Regions from separate parts of the Homo sapiens genome. Here region 2 is linked to region 1. The links come from fine-mapping of genetic effects on plasma protein levels. Region 1 holds a variant in brackets. A gene starts in the other region. All regions are shown on their forward strands. Region 1 overlaps IL12B-AS1 (IL12B antisense RNA 1). Region 2 holds the start of IL12A (interleukin 12A).

What was found. PIP is the chance, under the fine-mapping model, that this variant and not a neighbour inherited with it causes the effect. The UK Biobank Pharma Proteomics Project read protein levels with antibody pairs (Olink). The fine-mapping took linkage between variants from a reference panel, not from the people measured, so its PIPs are less certain.
Region 2: IL12A starts here. The variant in region 1 is fine-mapped to the plasma level of the IL12A protein (UK Biobank, PIP above 0.99).

Annotation. Positions count from the first base shown.
Region 1 is chr5:159,341,674-159,351,301 of GRCh38, forward strand. IL12B-AS1 (IL12B antisense RNA 1) reads left to right here. Exons shown (of 5, transcript NR_037889.1): 3 at 5,843-5,932. Among named protein-coding and RNA genes, the nearest start is that of IL12B-AS1, 15 kb to the left of the region's middle. The variant G/A (reference allele first, on the strand shown) is at 4,436.
Region 2 is chr3:159,980,744-159,990,089 of GRCh38, forward strand. IL12A (interleukin 12A) reads left to right here and starts at 8,092. Exons shown (of 7, transcript NM_001397992.1): 1 at 8,092-8,431. The coding sequence starts at 8,416. IL12A-AS1 (IL12A antisense RNA 1) reads right to left here. Exons shown (of 10, transcript NR_108088.1): 9 at 8,354-8,550. RefSeq lists enhancers at 5,751-6,950, 7,802-8,302, 8,303-8,803, 8,303-8,352 and silencers at 7,863-8,062, 8,133-8,182.

The sequences.
Region 1 (9,628 bases):
CCTTTTATTCTAAAACAAGCAAGAAGCATTGGACCTGTCAGTTTCTGAGGCAGAAACTTCCTCTCAGAATGGTGTGTGGGCATTCATGGGATAGTCCTTGAACACTGTCCTTGTCCTAATAAAAGCAGCTTACTTTTATTTAGAGTGCTTGTTTCTTGACAGATTTTACTTAAGAGCTTTATAGTTAGTCCTTTTAACAACCCTTTTCCAAGCAAAGACATGGCTGGTAGAGGCAGAATGAGTAACTTGCCCAATGTCTGCCAGCAAGGAGGTGGCAGAGCTGGGATTCTTGATCGCAAACACCGCCCTTGACTGTCTCTGCCTGTGGCTAGTGATGCAATTGTCCCACGTGTCTATCTGATGGGCTGTTTGCCAGAAAAGCCTTCTGAAATGCTTTGGGCTGCACAGGGCCCCAGTTAAAATGTGTGTATGATTTAAACTGACACTTGTTAACCTTGCGGTTATTTATTGAGTGACAATTACATATCAGGCACCCAGCTAAATTCTGTGAATGTAGTAAGCAGATCAGACCTGGACTCTGTCCTCATAGAGCTAAATAGATATGTGCAGAGGACAAAATGCTATGAAGGAAATGAATGGGTGGTGAGACAGAGAATCACAGGGGAGGGCTCTCTGATGAGGTGGCATTTAAGTTGGGACCTACAGGTGAACCAGGATGAGAATCAGTAAGAAGCCCCTACAATGGGAGAGGGCTTGGCGGGTTGGAGGAATGGAAAGGAGGTTGGTGTGACTTAAGCGCAGAGGAAAGGGAGAGATGCCCAGGGAGTCTGAGGCAGGTGCTGGCCGAGGCACATGGCTGCACAGGCCCCATGTAGTAGGCACATTTAGCACTGAAAATATGTAAAAGTCTCTGAGATGAAACAACCACGATAACCAAAACCAAGACCCAGGTATGCTTTGTCATAGGATCAGGTACCAATGAAGTTCTTGGGAGCTGTGAAACATGGCTGACTTGACCAGACCAGAAGTTTCCAAATCTTCCTTGGTCGCAGAACGCTTAGTGCTTCAGTAATTTTTTCATGGCATCTGTAGGCCAAAAGAAATACCAAATAGATTCATTGATTAACTAGTTAGGGTCAAATCGCTTAAAAGTCTTTATGTGCTAAAAACTTTGTATTGGCCATTTGAAAAAAAATGATACATTGAAACAAAAAAAATATTTTTTTGTATTCTGAAATCATCACAATTACTTACTCATGGGATGTGTGGCCTGCTGGGCACTGTGCAACTCCTTAAACTTTGGAATCAGAGTGGACACTGCCACCTTCATTTCCTGTTCCACACTGATTTCCTTGTGGCACTTGCTTTTTGTCACAGTAACTGCCAAAAACATGGCTTCCCCAAAAGATGCCATCACTGAAAGGAATATGACGTAATCTAATGTTGAAACCATGAACAACCCTGAGTTTGTGCAGTGTTCAACAGATATGGAGGATCCTGTCTTTCCCTTGGAAAATTTAAAATACCTCCCAACAGTCCTGTGAATTTACTATGCTACCCCAGGGTGACCTGGTAGAGAGTTTGGAACCACAGCTAGCCATAGTACTTTCAAACTACTAAAGTTAGATATCTCTTTGCCACCAAATCCCTCCTCAGGGCCATATGTGACCCTGCATTTTGTGCAGGGATTCCAGGAAGCAAAGTTGTCACTCTTTCTGGAAACTGTATCCTATTTGCCCAACCATCAATAGGGGTACCTCTGGAGTGCGAACCCAGCCTGGCTTATTTGAATAGAGGAAAGGAGGAAAGGGGTGAGTAACATGTACAGATGGTCAGCAGTAGTATGAAAGCATGTGAGGTTGAACCAAGAGGAAATGAGTAGGTGATACACAACCATAATTTTGGGGCCCTTGATGAAGAAATGAGTGCTGAAATTCTGAAGGGTTTGTTATTGTGCAGACCTGCAGTTAAGCTGGCTAAGCTTTAGGTGTTGCCTCTGCAGTCAGGAACATCCTGCCAGAAGGCAATTAAAGAGTGGAAGAGCAGAAATGCAGAGAAGGAATTCAACACCTGCTCCACCAGCACGTTCCTTGGTCGCTCTCGTCTGTTTCCCTAGCTGGATCACATTCTTGGTGAATGAGAGAAAGTATGAGGATTAATGAGCAGACCTGTCTTTGGGATACCCTAGAACCATGATGCAATGCAAATATCACAGTATCTCAAAGGACAGTAGCCAGTAGAGCCAGTTGACTTCAAGTCAGTTTAACTTTCTCTTTCTGCATAAAGTCATGTATGCAAATCATCTAGGATGGCTGAGATGCTGATGAAATGAGTTCCCATGGCAACTGGAAGATTATCCTTACATCATCTTTGTGATGAGCAAAGTTCAGTGAAGACCAGAGGGAAGTAAAATTCTTGCTTGTCACTGAACTTGGACTGTTTACTCAACCTCTATTGCTTGGTTTTCTCATCTATAAGATGAGAATAATACTGAGATGGGATTGTTCCCTTGACCTCCTCATGGGACTTGCAACATTGGTGACTTGTTTACTTGGCCACTGCACTCAAACCCCTTGCATGAGGGGGAGCACACAGGAGAGCAGGAGCAGGAGCTGGGGTGATTGCCTTTGGAAGCCATTAGGAACAAACTGTGTACCAGCCTGTGGCAGTGTCTAGGGGTTGTCCATGACCTCTGGAGCCCAAGGGGGCATGTGTTACAAACAATACTCTTTTAGCATTTGCTGTCCACAGACAGCTAAGTGTTTACCCGCTCAGTGGAGGGTTGGGGTGACAGCCTTTCACACCCTGCCCTCTTGATACCCAGGTTCTTGTCCTATGTCCAGGAAGAATCAGGTCACAGGGACTTGAAGGATGGTGAATGTGGAGACTTTATTGAGTGGTGGAGGTGGCTCTCAGTGGGATGGGGAGCTAGAAAGGGGATGGAGTGGGAAGATACTCTTCCTCTGGAGTTCAGCCATTCCTGGCCAAATTCCTCTCCAACCATAGTCTCCGATGTCCAGCTGCCTCTTCTACTCTTGATGTTCAGACACTTCTTCCCTTCTCTCCTTCTCTGCTGCACCGCTCTGCTCCTCTGCCAGTGGAACTTGGAGTTTTTGTGGGTACAGGGTGGGGAGGGAAGTGTGGCATGCCAGGGTGGTTTTAGAAAAGGCAACATTCGAGCGGGAAAACAGGGATGTGAAGTTCTCATCTAGGGCTGCGGGTCCAGGCTTGAGGGTGGAGTCCTTGCCATGGACCCTGCCCTCTTCTACCCAGTATTTCCCTTCCTCCTGTCCTTATCAGTACAAACCCAGACCTTTAAGTTGTTACAAGAAGTAATGATACTCACTAAGCCAAAACCATAGTGTCAGGTACTATGCTGATGCTTTATATACACTAGCTTATTTTATACCTAAAACAATCTTACAAGGAAGACATATTATAATCCCCATTGATATCTGAGAAAAATGAGGCACAGAGAGAACAAGTAAGTTGATATCAAAAATGGCAGGGCAGGGATAATAAGATACATCTAGTATAAGATTTGGTTGAGATTATGAGTATGAGATCTTAGCCCATTGCCTGCCCACAGCAGTACTCAGCAAATGCTAGGCTATTATTATTACTGTTATTTTTTGTTAATTCCATTACTGTTATTATTTGACCAGGGGAATCATCTTAGGCTTTATGGAGGAGTTGACATTTTCAATCAGCTTTGAGGGTGGGTAGGCTTTGGACAGACAGGGATGGGGCAGAAGAACATTCTGGACTATGGGCACAACAAGAGCTAAGGCTAGGAGGTGGGACTGTGTAACTTTGAGATGGAGAATAGGGAGGAGACCTCAAAGCAGAACCTTAGGCTCTAAGGGAAACAAGACAGAAGGATTCTGCTGACAAGACAGTAAAGTAGCCTGCTCATCTGGTGGTAGGCACTGTGTCAGCGTTCTAGGTTGTAAATGTAGGAAGTAAGCAGATCAGAGGTTTGCTCAACAACCTGCCTAGTGAGCCAAACTGCTTGCTCTTGAGGCCATGTAGTCCTTCTGGGGCAGCTCTTCAAACCCTAGTCCACAGAGGCAGGTACCCAGTTCTTTCAGTGATGCCCCAAGCCAGATAAGAAAATGATGTTATGGAGATCTGGAATCCTCACCCAAAAGTCCAGCTTTCATTCTAAATGCATCCGTCCATCAGGACAGTCTTGTGTGTGTTCAGAGGTGAGGGATGAAAGAGAAACTTCACAGCAGAAGACCCTCTCAAAGTCATGTGCGGATCTGCACTGAGTCTCCTGTTTCTCCCTCTTCCCTAGCTATACCTCTTTTTAAGATCCAAAAGGGCAGGGCTGACTTAAGCCTTCTCTAGGGCCAGATATTCCTAGACGAAAACAAGGGGCTTCTTGAGAGGAAATGAAAGGAGACGGAGATGCGGTTTTGCCTTAAGGTTTTTAATGTGAGCCACTGAGAAGATTCATTTTGAAATAGAA[G/A]GATGTGTCTGACAGTGTGATGTAAATGCAGGCATTTTGGAGTCCCTGCTGGAGAACACACAGAGGTGAGTAGGGGTTCTCCAGTGACCTTGTGGGAGTCTTTGGCTGGGAAGCTAGCTGCTGGAGCTGAAAGGGCACAGGAATAGAAACCACACCACCTGGGGTCTTCTGATCCAGTGTTTTCCAAAGGGCAAGTGCCATGTGAGCTGGTTTTAGACTGCAAAGGAGCAACTGATTCAACAGTAACAAATTACAAATGAAAACTTTTCCCATTTCAAAGTTACTTTTCAGTTCTTCTGATGCTAAGGAGAAAGTGTCGGTTTTAGGCTATTGTCTCTCTTTTTTTTTTTTTTTGAGTCAGAGTCTTGCTCTGTCGCCCAGGCTGGAGTGCAGTGGTGCGATCTCGGCTCACTGCAAGCTCCGGCTCCTGAGTTCACACCATTCTCCTGCCTCAGCCTCCCAAGTAGCTGGGACTACAGGTGCCCGCCACCACGCCCAGCTAATTTTTTGTATTTTTAGTAGCGATGGGGTTTCACCGTGTTAGCCAGGATGGTCTCAATCTCCTGACCTTGTGATCCTCCCGCCTCGGCCTCCCAAAGTGCTGGGATTACAGGCATGAGGCACCGCGCCAGGCCTATTGTCTCTTTAATACCTCTCTATCACTTGTTGATCTCTCTTCTTAAGGAGGGCAAGCACTCTTCAGCCTTAGAGGCATTAGCAGGCAACAGCATCTATTCTAGTGGATCTCATCCTTGGCTGCATGATGCTATTTCCTGGGGAGAGCTTTAACAAATTACTTATGCCTAATTGCTTCCTCCCCAGAGGAATTCCAGTTTAATAGCTCTAAGGTCTGGCTTGGGCATTAGGATTTTTAGAAGCTCTCCAGACAACGGTTTCTAATTAGAATTGTTTTGTATTATATTTATTAACCTTCTATTAATGGCACGTGATACTAGTTTTCTACTGAAGGCATTGAAGTAAAATTTCCTTTCAACATCAGTTGACTTACATAAAAACAGTAAGTGCCTGTTAAAGGAAAATAAAAACTAAAGGCAGGAGGATTACTTGAGGCCAGGAGTTTGAGACCAGTCTGGGCAACGTAGTGAGACCCCGTCTCTTAAAAATAAAAGCCAGGCATAGCGGTACGTACCTGTAGTCCCAGCTGCTGAGGAGGCCGAGGTGGGAGGAGTGGGACGATCACTTGAGACAGGGTGTTTGAGGCTGCAGTGAGCTATGATCATACTACTGCACTGGTGTGACAGAGCAGAAAAAAAGAAGAAGAAAAAGAAAGATAACTAAATAATGCAGGTGGTATTTGCATATGGCAAAAACAAAATATGCATTCAGTGAACTTTGCCAAACTCTCTTCTGGTCCTGGCTTAGCTCTCCCATTCCTGTCTTCTTTAGGCCCAGTTTCCTCAACAATGAAATGGGACTAATTATCCCAGGTCACACTTCTCTCTGGGCTTACCCTGGGAATCAGATGATTGAGCTTTGGTAAGTATTATTTGATAAACAAGTATGAGGAAGGAAATAAAAGGGAGATCAGTGCTGCAGAGATGGCTAATTGGCAGATTTACACAGAACTGGATTTTTTGCGTATGTTAAACCAGGCTATTTGGAACTTCTGAGTTCCAAGTACCATCTTCTCTCCCTCTGCATCAGAATGATCCACTGGTCTCCATTAAAGGTATCATGATTGCCAATAATGATTTAGTTCTCCAGTGGCAATAAACTAAAGAACACTGGAAGTCCCACCAAGACTCCCAAGGATAGCGTGTTAGCATACAAGCTGAATAGCCTGTGTTGCAGTCCCTGCTAGTCAGGGTCTTCTGGATAATGCATTGCCTGTGTGAGGACTGGCCTGGTCCTCTGCAGGCTGAATTCTGCATTTAGCAGCTCAGTGTCCCTTCCACGGGCCCCAGTTTCTTCATCAGGAAGGTGAGGGGCTTGGACTAGTGTAGGATCAGGTATAAATGCAAATACCTCCAATACCAAGGAAGTAACTCAGGTGTGAGGCTCTGCTAAGGGAACAGGGAGTGGTCAGGCTTACAGCAAAGTAGAGAGCGCAGTCCCACAATAAAGATACTCAGATTCAAGTTTTGAAAACCAGGGGGTTGTTAAACAACAGTTTGGCAAGGTGACAGTTAGTGATTACTGGATGTGATGGTTTCTAAGATTCATTTCTAAAAATAATTTTATAATAGTAAAATAAATCCAAGGTGTCTACTGGGGTTTTTTTATATCACTGCTGTACTCAATGGTACCCAGAGGCTTCTCTGATAATAAGAACTAACACTTAGAATAAAAGCTAACATCCAAATGCTAAGTTCTTTAAAACCATTTAATCCTCACCATAACTGTGTGAAGCCAGTACTATTATTACAGCCTTATAACATATAAGGAAGTTAGGGTTCAGAGTGTTTTTTTACACACATTTTACAAATGTGTGTAAAATCTCTAGAGCAGCGTTATCCAATAGAAATATAAAATGAGCCATATATGTAATTTTGAATTTTTTTAGTAGCCATATTAAAAAATAAAAAGAAACATGACATTAATTTTAATTATATATTTTATGTAAACCAATATATATAAAATATTATCATCTTAATATGTAATCAGTGTAAAAATTAATGAGATGCCTTGTGTATTTTTTGCATTGTCTTTAAAATTTAGAGTTTCTTCTTTTTTTTAAACAAATAGCCTTATTGAGATATAATTCACATACTATACAGTTTGCCCATTTAAAGTATACAATTCAATGGCTTTTAATATATTTACATATGTGTAACAATTTTAAATTAAAATTGTGTAAAATTTAATATATTCACATGGTTACACACAAATGGTTACACATATGTTAATATACTAAATTTTACACAATTTTATATTTATTATTTATTTGATATATAAATATTATTTATTTGAGGCAGGGTCTTGCTCTGTTGGCCAGGCTGGAGTGCAGCATTGCAATCATAACTCACTGAAGCCTAGACCTCCTGGCTTCAAGCAATCCTCCTGCCTCAGCCTCTTGAGTAGATGGGACTGCAGGCATCTACCACCACACTCGGTATTAACTTTTTAATTTTTTGTAGAGACAGGGTCTCACTCTGTTGCCCAGGCTGGTCTTAAATTCCTGGGCTCAAGTGATCCTCCTGCCTCAGCCTCCCAAAATGTTGGGATTATAGGTGTGAGCCACCGCAATTTTAGAAAGTTTTCATCCCCTTGAGATGAAATCTCCTATCTTTTGGCTAGCACTCACCTACCACCCTGACCCCATCCTCAGCCATAAACTACCCCTAATCTAATTTAAATCTCTATAGACGTCCCTATTCTTTTTCATGTGACTATTCTGTTATCCCAGCACCATTTGTTGGAAAGACCATTTTCCCCCACTGAAGGGTCTTGGTACCCTTGCCAAAATCAGTTGACCATAGACATATGGGTTTATTTCTGTGCTCTCAATGTTCTGTTCCATTGATCTGTATGCCTATCCTTATGCCAGTACCATACTGTCTTGACTATTGTTGTTTTGTAGTTAAGTTTTGAAATAGAGAAGTTTGAGTCCTCATACTTTATTCTTCTTTTTAAGGATTATTATGGCTATTCCAGATCTCTTTTAATTCCATATAAGTTTCTAAATCAACTTGTTAATTTGTACAAAGAAGTCAGTTTGGATTCTGATAGGGAATGTGTTGAATTTACACATCAGTTTGGGGAGTATAACAATGTTAAGGATTGGAAAACCCGTGATTATAGGGTTTTCTCCATTTATTTAGACCTTCTTTATTTTCTCAACAATGTTTTGCAGTTCTCAGCATATAACTTTCATTTCTTTTGTTCAATTTATTCCTAAGTATTTAATACTTTTTGGTGCTATTGCAGATGAATTTTCCTATTAATTTTCATATTGGTCATTGCAATTGTATAAAAATACAATTATTTTTGTATATTGATCTTGTTTCATGCAATCTTGCTGTGATGGTTAATTTTTTGTGTCAACTTCACTGGGACATGAGGTGCCCACATATTTAGTCAAACATTATTCTATGTGCTTCTGGGAGGATGTTTTGGATTAGTTTGACATTTAAATTGATAGAAATTGATAGACTGAGTAAAGTAGATTTCCCTTCGTAATGTAGCTTAGCCTCATTTAATCAGTTAAAAGTCTGAATAGAAAAAAAGGCTGACCCTGCCCACAAATAAAAAGGAATTTCTTCTGCCTGACTACCTCTGAGCTGCAACATCTGTTTTTTCTTGCCTTTGAACTTGAATTGAAACATTAGCTCTTTCTGAGTCTTGAGTCTGCTGGCTTTCAAACTAGAACTACAACATTAGCTTTCCTGAATGCAAATCAAAACCACAATGAGATGCCATCTCACACCAGTTAGAATGGCGATCATTAAAAAGTCAGCAAACAACAGGTGCTAGAGAGGATGTGGAGAAATAGGAACACTTTTACACTGTTGGTGGGACTGTAAACTAGTTCAACCATTGTGGAAGACAGTGTGGCGATTCCTCAAGGATCTAGAACTAGAAATACTATTTGTCCCAGCCAACCCATTACTGGGTATATACCCAAAGAATTATAAATCATGCTACTATAAAGACACATGCACATGTATGTTTATTGTGGCACTATTCACAATAGCAAAGACTTGGAACCAACCCAAATGTCCATCAATGATAGACTGGATTAAGAAAATGTGGCACATATATGCCATGGAATACTATGCAGCCATAAAAAAGGATGAGTTCATGTCCTTTGTAAGGACATGGATGAAGCTGGAAACCATCATTCTGAGCAAACTATCACAAGGACAGAAAACCAAACACTGCATGTTGTCACTCATAGGTGGGAATTGAACAATGAGAACACTTGGACACAGGATGGGGAACATCACACACTGGGGCCTGTCATGGGGTGGGGGGAGAGGGGAGGGACAGCATTAGGAGATATACCTAAAGTAAATGATGAGTTAATGGGTGCAGCACACCAACGTGGCACACATATACATATGTAACAAACCTGCACATTGTCTTCATGTACCTTAGAACTTAAAGTTATTTTAAAAAAAGCCACAGAACTCTTTTGTAAGTAAATAAAAAATTAGCTTTCCTGGTTCTCAGACATTTGGACTAGGACTAGAACTAAGCCATTAGCTCCCCTGGGCCCCCAGCTTGTAGGCT
Region 2 (9,346 bases), not on the chromosome of region 1:
GGTGGATAGATGGATGGATAGATGGATGGATGAAAAGATGGATGGATAGATAGAGTCAGACACAAAGCCCCTGACTTGAGGGTAGAGAGTTAATCCACTTACATACTCAATGTTTGATGTTCATATGGTAAATCCTGCAAGAATGCTGCTACATAGAGGAAATTCTCTGCTCAAAAGCTGTCAGAATGGCTACAGCAGCTGTCTTAGCAGTTAAAATACAAATAAAAACAAAACAAAAATAAATGAAGCTATAATACATTTGTATGTTAAATAATTCAAAAAGTACAGAGCATATTCAATAAAAGTCAGGTTTTCCTCCTACTTCAAAGACTCAGTCTACTTCTTTAGAGGCAATGGTCACTACTCTTAGAAGCATAGATTTATATCTATACTACACGTGTATCTATGTGTGTTTGTACATGAATATACTTTTTTCTCTGTACAAATGGAAGCATATTATACACTAGTCTGAACCTTGATTTTGCACGACTTTTCAAGTAATGAAGATTTTTCCTGTCATATATATAAATCTGCCTCAATCTTTTGGATAGTTGCATAATAGTCCCTTGAAAAGATGAGTCATGTTTTATTTAAATGGTTTCCTGCTAATAAGACATTGGAAGCATTTCAAGTTTTTTGATACTAAAAATGATATTTTTAATGGAAATAAGTCTTTATGCATACATGCAAATAGTTTTATAGGATAAATTACTAGAAGTAGAATTGCTGAACAAGTGTATGTGCATTTTTCATTTTGATAGCTATTGCCAACTATCCCTCCAAATAGATTTCACTAGATTACACATTTCCACATACCCTTACACACTTTACAAACTATCAAACTTTTAGCTTTGCAAACTACAGGATAAAAATTATATCTATTATTTTTATTTGCATTTATTCAATTATCAGTGCAGCTGAGTATTTTTCATATGTTTATAAGTAATTTGTGTATCTTTTTCTCTGAGCTGTCTGTTCATATCCTTTGCCCAGTTTTGAATTGAATTATTGGCCTTTTTCTTATTGACTTTTGCATTTACACAGTGACATTAGCTCTTGGTTTGTTACATGTTCATGTAAATGTTTTTTCTGGGTTATGATTTCTCTTTAAAAGTTGTCTATAATATTCCTATAGACAACTCAAAATTCCTATAGACAACGAATCAAAATATTTGATTTTTACAGTCAAATTTATCCTTTTTTTCTTTATAATGTCTGGGCATCAGATGATCTTAATTATTCATGAGACTACAATGCCCAGGTGTTGTATCATATTCAGATAAGTTGCTAAACTGTCTCAAGATGCAGAAAAGTTTGCAAAAGTATTCATACAATCTTTATTCTGGAGCACCAATAAGTAATAAATGACACCTTTCTGGATTTTTTTTCTTGAAGCCCGTTGTCAAGATTTTTGAAGTCTCTCAAAAACAGGATAGATGGCTCATGGATGTTCCCTACAGACACTGTGTCATGAATATTTAGGACTCCCCTCCACCGCTATTGAGAAGTTGCCACTTAATGTTTCAAAGAGAGCAAAGAAATAGTTTTGGAAGAAACTGTATGTGTGTCTTAATCTAAAATTAATAACTATATTTCACTATCACTCACTGTAGAATGATATCTAATATTGTTGACATTCTACCACTTTACAAAATTCTTACCTGTTCACTGTATAATTGATCTGCGTGACAAAACTAGCACAACAAAAGATTACCATCTCCATTTTGCTGATATGAAAATTAGGAAAGGCAGTGGCTTGCCCCAGCTTACATAGGTACCAAGTAGCAGAAAGAGGCTAGAAATTAGGTCTTTTGATCGTAGGCCCAAAGTTCCTTTAGTGCTATAGCCTTTCTGGCTCCGCTCACTTACTATTTCTCCCCCTGCTGCTCAGATATGTCAGCAAAGAAGAAAGAGCTCCACAGAACCAAGCTCCTCAGCATGTAACACTGGGGGTTGGTGTTCAACAAGGAACACAGAGCTCTGCTTCTTACCCTGACAGGCCACCTTTCAGGATTGAAGCTCAGGATTGGAATCCAGATTGATGCCATGTGGGCACCAGCTGATTTATGCTCAAGTTGAATGACATTTATGGACAAGAGCCACAGGAAAACTGACAGCAGAGACCTTGCTATTTTATGAAGGAAAATCACGTTTACAGTGCTGACCTACACATGCAAATTTACGGTCTCAACTGATCACAAGCCTCTTTGGGATCTCACTTCATCTGAGGATGAGCTGCCACCCTAAATTATGGCACCAAAGATATAGTTCCAAATCTTCTGTTCAGGTCCTATGACTCTGACCTTGTCTACTTGTCAGGGAGAATAACAATGAAGACAGGCATATCGAGCTATCTACTCAAATCAGCCAGGGTTTCTCTTCCAGCACTACTGATACTTTGAATCACAAAATTATTTGTCTGGGGGGGCGGATGGGCGGGTGAGGGGCTATCCTGTGTACCGTAGAATGTTCAGCAGCATTTAGCAACATTCTTCTACCCACTAGATGCCAGTGGCAACCCCCTTCCTCCAATTATGACAACTCAAAATGTCTCCACACATTGCCAAGTGTCCCCTGGGGAGCAAGGCCATCTCCAACTGAGAACCACAGAAATAGATCTTTAATATATTCTGTCAAATTTTTGAAAAGACCCTTGTCTCTCAGTGATGAAAATGCCTGATTGACTCATAGCTCAAACCGAATGGGAAAGGAATAACTAACAATAAAAGCTACCTGAATTCCCAGCACTTTGGGAGGCCAAGGCAGGCAGATCACGAGGTCAGGAGATAAAGACCAACCTGGGTAACACGGTGAAACCCTGTCTCTACTAAAAATACAAGAAAATTAGCCAGGTGTGGTGGCAGCCGCCTGTAGTCCCAGCTGCTCGGGAGGCTGAGGCAGGAGAATGGCATGAACCTGGGAGGCAAAGCTTGCAGTGAGCCAAGATTGAGCCACTGCACTCCAGCCTGGGCGACAGAGTGAGACTCCGTCTCGAAAACAAAACAAAACAAAACAAAAAACTACCTGAATGTACCAAATAGCAATTGAAGTTTGCAAACAATGACCTTGAGTCATCTGCTTACAGAAGGTGTCTATCTGTCTTTTGGACAAAGGACTTCTGATGAAGAGGATGGAGTGGACCATATTCTTTAATCCATGACGTTATTTGTCCCCATCAAATACAAATATCTAAATGTATTTATATATTTTCATTATCACTAGTCCTCATTCTCATTCCCCTCACTCCCCAGTGGGATCTATCCTACTAATATATATCCTTTTGTCTGTGTCTTTGTATAATGTGTACTATTTTGAATATATCATTCTCATTTAAGTCAATAGAGTTCCGCAATCACTTACTCACAATTCTTAAACTTACACAGCTCTGGACACCAGAAGTTTTCTCTTAAATTCTTAACAGCGAAATCTGACTGAAGCGACAAGGGGTTACTTGGGGTTCTTTAGCCACTCAATGTAACTATTCCTATGTTTTGCTGCGGAACTATTATGCTTGATTATGCGATGCCACCTCTTCCTTTTCTAAATTCCAAGCATTTTGAATTCCAAAAACAAATCTGAGCCCCCCCATTTTTTTCTTTTTCTTTCTTTCCTTTTTCTTTTCTTTTAAGTGAGACAGGGTCTCACTCTGTTGCCCAGGTTAGAGTACAGTGACACAATCATGGCTCACTATAGCCTTGACCTTCCGGGCTCAGGTGATCCTCCCACCTCAGCCTACTTGGTAGGTGGGAGTACAGGCATGTGCCACCATGCCTGACTAATTTTTGTATTTTTTGTGGAGATGGGGAATCCCTATGTTGCCCAGGCTGGTCTCAAACTCCTGGGTTCAAGCAATCCACTTTCCTTGGCTTCCCAAAGTGCTTGGATTACAGGCATGAGCCACTGTGCCCAGCCCCAAAGGGTTTTAATTGTCTACTTATACATTATAGAGAGAGATCTTACTCTGTTTTCCTGTTTTTACTCAGTATTATATTTTTAATACATATCCATGTTACTGCATGTACATCTAGTCTATTACTTCTAACTGCCGTAGAATACTCCATGAAGTGGATCCCTACATTCCACTCACCCACTCCCCCAGTAATGAGCAGCTACATTGCCTCCAGTTCCCCATCACTACAAACAATGACTTAATGAACATCCTCATACATGTTCCTTTGTGGACCTGTATGAGAATCTCCATAGGATATACACCCAGGGTTAACAGCTGGGTCATGGGTGTGAATATACTTAATCTGGTCAAGGAATGCCAGAATACCCTTCAAAACAGCCATGTCAGCCTACTGGCATGGTGTGATATAATAGATCCTGTAGTCCCCCATTTTCCCAACACTTACCAGTATCCAGTGTTCTCAACTTGTCAGTCTAAGAGGTGTAAAGAGATATCTCATTCTTTTTTTCATTTGCATTTTCTGATATAACTGAGCCTCCAGGTATGCTCATTAGTCTTTGGGGTTTCTTCTCGTTAAATTGCTTATTCATGAGCTTTACGCATTTTTTACTAGTGTTTCTGTCTTTTTCTTGCTGACTTACAAGAGTTCCTTGTTTTTAGACATTGAAAATATTGGTTTTAGACACTGAAAAATATCTTCTCTCAATCTGTCAGCTGTCTGTTCATTTGGTTCATGCATAGAGGAAATGTGTAAAACAGAAATCTTCATTTTTATGTAATCCAATTGATAGGTATTTTGCCTTATGGTTTGGAGCTTTAGAAGTTTTAAAAAAGTCCTTCCCACTTATAAGTGACAAAGACAGTCCTCTATATTTTCTTCTACTACTGTAACAATTTTACTTTTCACATTTGGTCTTTAATTCACTTCCAAATGGATTCACCTCTGTTGTTTTAGATTGGAGTCCAGTTTTATTTTTCATCATACGCTGAACATTTTCTCTTTTTAAAAAAATTTTTTGTAGGGAGTTTTTGCTCAGACTGGCCTTGAACTACTGACCTCAAGCAATTCTCCTGCCTTGACCTCCCAAAGTGCTGGGATTACAGGTGTGAGCCATTATGCCCAGCCCATTGAGTATTTTCTACTAAATATTGCATGTTTTCCTCATTGATCAGGGAATCATCTGTATTATCTTATACTTAATACCCAAATATACAAATCTATCTATAATTTCTCTACTCTGTTTCAATGGTCCATATGCCTGATCTGTTGCAAAGATCACTACTTTAATTTCTATGGCTTTAAATTATGTCCATATGTGATAGGGTTAGTCCCCCTTTTCATTATTCCCTTAGCATTTTTACTTAAGGCCAGGAACAGCAGCTCACGCCTGTAATCCCAGCACTTTGGGAGGCCAAGGTGGGTGGATCACTTGAGCCCAGGAGTTTGAGACCAGCCTAGGCAACAAAACTAGACTCCGTCTCTACAAAATACAAAAATAAAAATTAGCTGGACATGATGGTGTTGCCTGTGGTCCAAGCTACTCAGGAGGCTGAAGTGGGAGGATCACTTTAGCCCAGGAGGTCAAGGCTGCAGTGAGCTGTGACTGTGCCACCACTACACTCCAGCCTGGGTGATACAGTAAAACCATGTCTCAAAAAAAATTTTTTTAACTTAGTCATAGATTTTATTACATCTGTATTTTAGAGTAGGCTTATTATTAAGTTTCTGAGAAAATTTATTTGTAGCTTGTATTGGAATTACATTGAGCATGTGAATTAACGAAAAGAGGCTTAAGCTTTCTATATAGAGAAACCTTCCACCCAAGGGTATAGAATTATTTAATTAAATCACACTATATTCTTGACTGAACTTTAAAATTTTTCTCCAAACACTATTCTGTAGTTATCCAAGCTCATGTAATAATCATAATAACTCTATACTGTAGGTACTTTTATTATCATCATTTAACAGATGAGGAAACTGAGCCCAGAGAGATAAATAACTCACCTAAGAACACACAGCAAGTAAGTAGCAGAACCTGGATTAACATAGTTTAGTCCATACTCTTAGCCATTATACTGCCTCTGTATCTACAGTCAGTTACTTTATAGTTTGGCTGCTTCTATGCATGTCATCTTGTTTTTATTACATTTTCTGATGGATTGTTGCAGATACAAAGAAAATCGGCTGATTTTTTTTAAGTTGATATGTGTATTGCATGATGTTGTTAAATTCTCTTCTTAGTTCTAATAGTCTATTAATTTTTTTTCTTTTTGTATATCAACTGTAAAAAGTGACAGTTTTACCTTTTCTTTTCCAATGTTTAAAGCTCTCATTTCTTTTTCTTTCCTTATAGCATTGGCCGAGACCTCCACGACAATGCTACACACTGTGAAGTAGTGATTGTGAGCTAAGACTGTCACTTATAGAAAAATCATGTATTCCTAGAAGAAGGTTTTCATTTCATCTTAGCTAGAGGACATGGAGCACTTCAGGAAACTATTTCACAAAAATGTAAATTAGAAACTGTGTCTGGTAGCCAATAATCCATTTTTAACAGTGGCCCTGTGCTCATCTAAGCAACAGAAATTACTTTTGTATAGGAGATGGCCCTTCCAGGGGAGAAACAGCTCAGTTGTGATACACTTGTCTTCATCCTGACTTTAAGTACATTTAACTCCACACTAAACCCTTGTGGCCACAACACAGCTCTGCACCTGTCATTTGCTCTAGACAAACTGCTAAACGCAATTGTTTCTGACAATGGATTACTCTGTATCCCGTGGGGGAATTCTCAGACAGCAGCATTAGAAGGGGCCTTAGAGATCAACCATTTCTCTTATTTTACACACACCTAAAACTCCCTACAGCCGTGCTTCATCAGCTTCGAGCAGATGAGCCACCCAGAAGGCAGCTCCAGTTATTAGGTCCTAGGGCCTGGGTGTAGTCAGGCCCTTTGGAAGCTCCAAGTCAGAGATCAAACACATCCTCCCCACTACCCACGCCTAGGGTGACTAATGCCTGTGGGAAAAACAACTGAACTAAAAAGTCCCACAGGAACCTCAAACCCAGCACATCCAAAATGGAACTTCTCACCATCTCCTCCAAACTCAGTCCTCTTATACAGTAATCCCTGTAAAGCTAGAACAATCTCCATTCCCCATTCTCAGGGCCTTCCTCTCCCGCTCACCTGAGGAGCTACCAAGCCTTGGCCCACAAGCCCTCTGAGAGTCCCTCCTGCCCACCCTGTGTTCTCCATACTGAATAAGGACTTGGCCACACCTTGTCAACTCTTCCCTCTGCTCTACTCCTGACCCCTGGATCCATCCTTCATGCTGTGGCTGAAGGGATCCCCCCATCATGCAAATTCTGCCACATCTCCCGCCTAAAACCCAGGAAGACTCCCCACTACTCTCAGCACAGAAAGTACACTCCTTAGTATGGCATCCCCTGCCCTCATGGCATGGCCCCATCCAGCCCTCCAGCCTCACACCCTGCAAGGACACCTAGACCCCCACCTCCCTCAACCCTTCATGACTGCGCTTCTGATCCCTGTTTCCCCTGGCTAGACCCTGCGTGCCCTCCCGCTGGAAGCGGTCTAATGCCTGCTTGTTTTTAACACTCAGGTTGGGGCCCCTGCCTGCTCCCGGGAGCCTTTGCTGACTCCTGGACCCCGTTGCTCCGGCTGAGCGTGGGCTCTTTCTCTAGGTCTTTCCTCCCAGGACTCTGTGTATTCATCCTATCGTTAAACTGGATTCTCTACAAGAGTAATAATTGCAGAGTCAGCCAGCTCTCATCCCTTTTCAGGTTTCAGAAAAGACCTGTGAACAAAACGCCTTGAGTCTGATTTAGTGTGGCAATGCCCCAAGGGTCCTGTTCTCCCTGGGTGTCCTGCACCTGGTGCAACGTCGGCCTGGCATCTAGTGAGCCATCTAAAGGAACGATGATGAGTGAATGATTTGCCTACCCCTTCCAGTACTAGGCTGGAGGTCGTGGTTAGGGCCCATCCCTACGCAGGACATGCAAAGTGGGAGGCACTCCTCTCTCTACGTCGGCAGGGGGCGCTGCACAGCTGCGGGGCGGGGTAGCTTAGACACGGGGCGTCCGGCTAAGGCCGGGGACCCAGGGTGGTGGGCGGGGTGTCCCGCCCGCCTGTGGACCCCGCGCAGTAACTGCGAACATTTCGCTTTCATTTTGGGCCGAGCTGGAGGCGGCGGGGCCGTCCCGGAACGGCTGCGGCCGGGCACCCCGGGAGTTAATCCGAAAGCGCCGCAAGCCCCGCGGGCCGGCCGCACCGCACGTGTCACCGAGAAGCTGATGTAGAGAGAGACACAGAAGGAGACAGAAAGCAAGAGACCAGAGTCCCGGGAAAGTCCTGCCGCGCCTCGGGACAATTATAAAAATGTGGCCCCCTGGGTCAGCCTCCCAGCCACCGCCCTCACCTGCCGCGGCCACAGGTCTGCATCCAGCGGCTCGCCCTGTGTCCCTGCAGTGCCGGCTCAGCATGTGTCCAGCGCGCAGTGAGTACTCAGCCCGCCAGGTCTTTGGCTCGCTCGGGTGCGGAGGGGCGGCTGCTTGGGAAGAGTGGGTAGAAACTCAAGTCTGCCTAAGGAGAGACTGGAACAGCAGCAGCCGTCTCCTGCAAAGAGGAATAAGAATAGGGGTCTCACCGTGTGCTAAATAGGGCATGTCTCTTTTCATCTCGAAACAGCCTGATGAGCTATCATTATGCCCACTTCGTAGAGGAGAAACTGAGGCCCAGCGTGGGAGATTTCCTGCTTTCCTGCCTAGGGTCCCTCAGCTACAAACAGAAGGCAGATCCTAGCCAGTTCTAAAGTCAGGCTTGGCCGGGTGCAATGGCTCACGCCTGTAATCCCAGCACTTTGGGAGGCCAAGGCGGACAGATCTCCTGAGGTCAGGAGTTCAAGACCAGCCTGACCAACATGGTGAAACCCCGTCTCTACTAACAAATACACAAATTAGCCGAGTGTGGTGGTGGGTGCCTGTAATCCCATCTACTCGGGAGTCTAAGGCAGGGAAAATTGCTTGAACTCGGAGGTGGAGGTTGCAGTGAGCCAAAATCGTGCCACTGCACTCCAGTCTGGGCCACAGAGTGAGACTCCGTCTTAAAAAAACAAAAAAAGTCAGGCTTTCTCACTCCACTGTTTTTAAAACACTGGGTCCCAAGTCTGACTCAGCCACTTCACCACCTGGTCTGGGTTTCCCTGATCAAAAACATGTAGGCTTTCTCTGGGTGAGTGTTGGGTTCAACACCCTTGTCCAAGCTCATCTCTAGACCCTCACAGGGAGCTGGCTTCTAGCCCTAGAATAGAGTGGCGCTTTGTAATAACTCGAGTCATCTCTCAGGTGTTGAAGGAAAAGTGTTGGAAATGGGTTGAGGGAGGTGGGTGCCAAGCATGAATGGATGGGTGAAG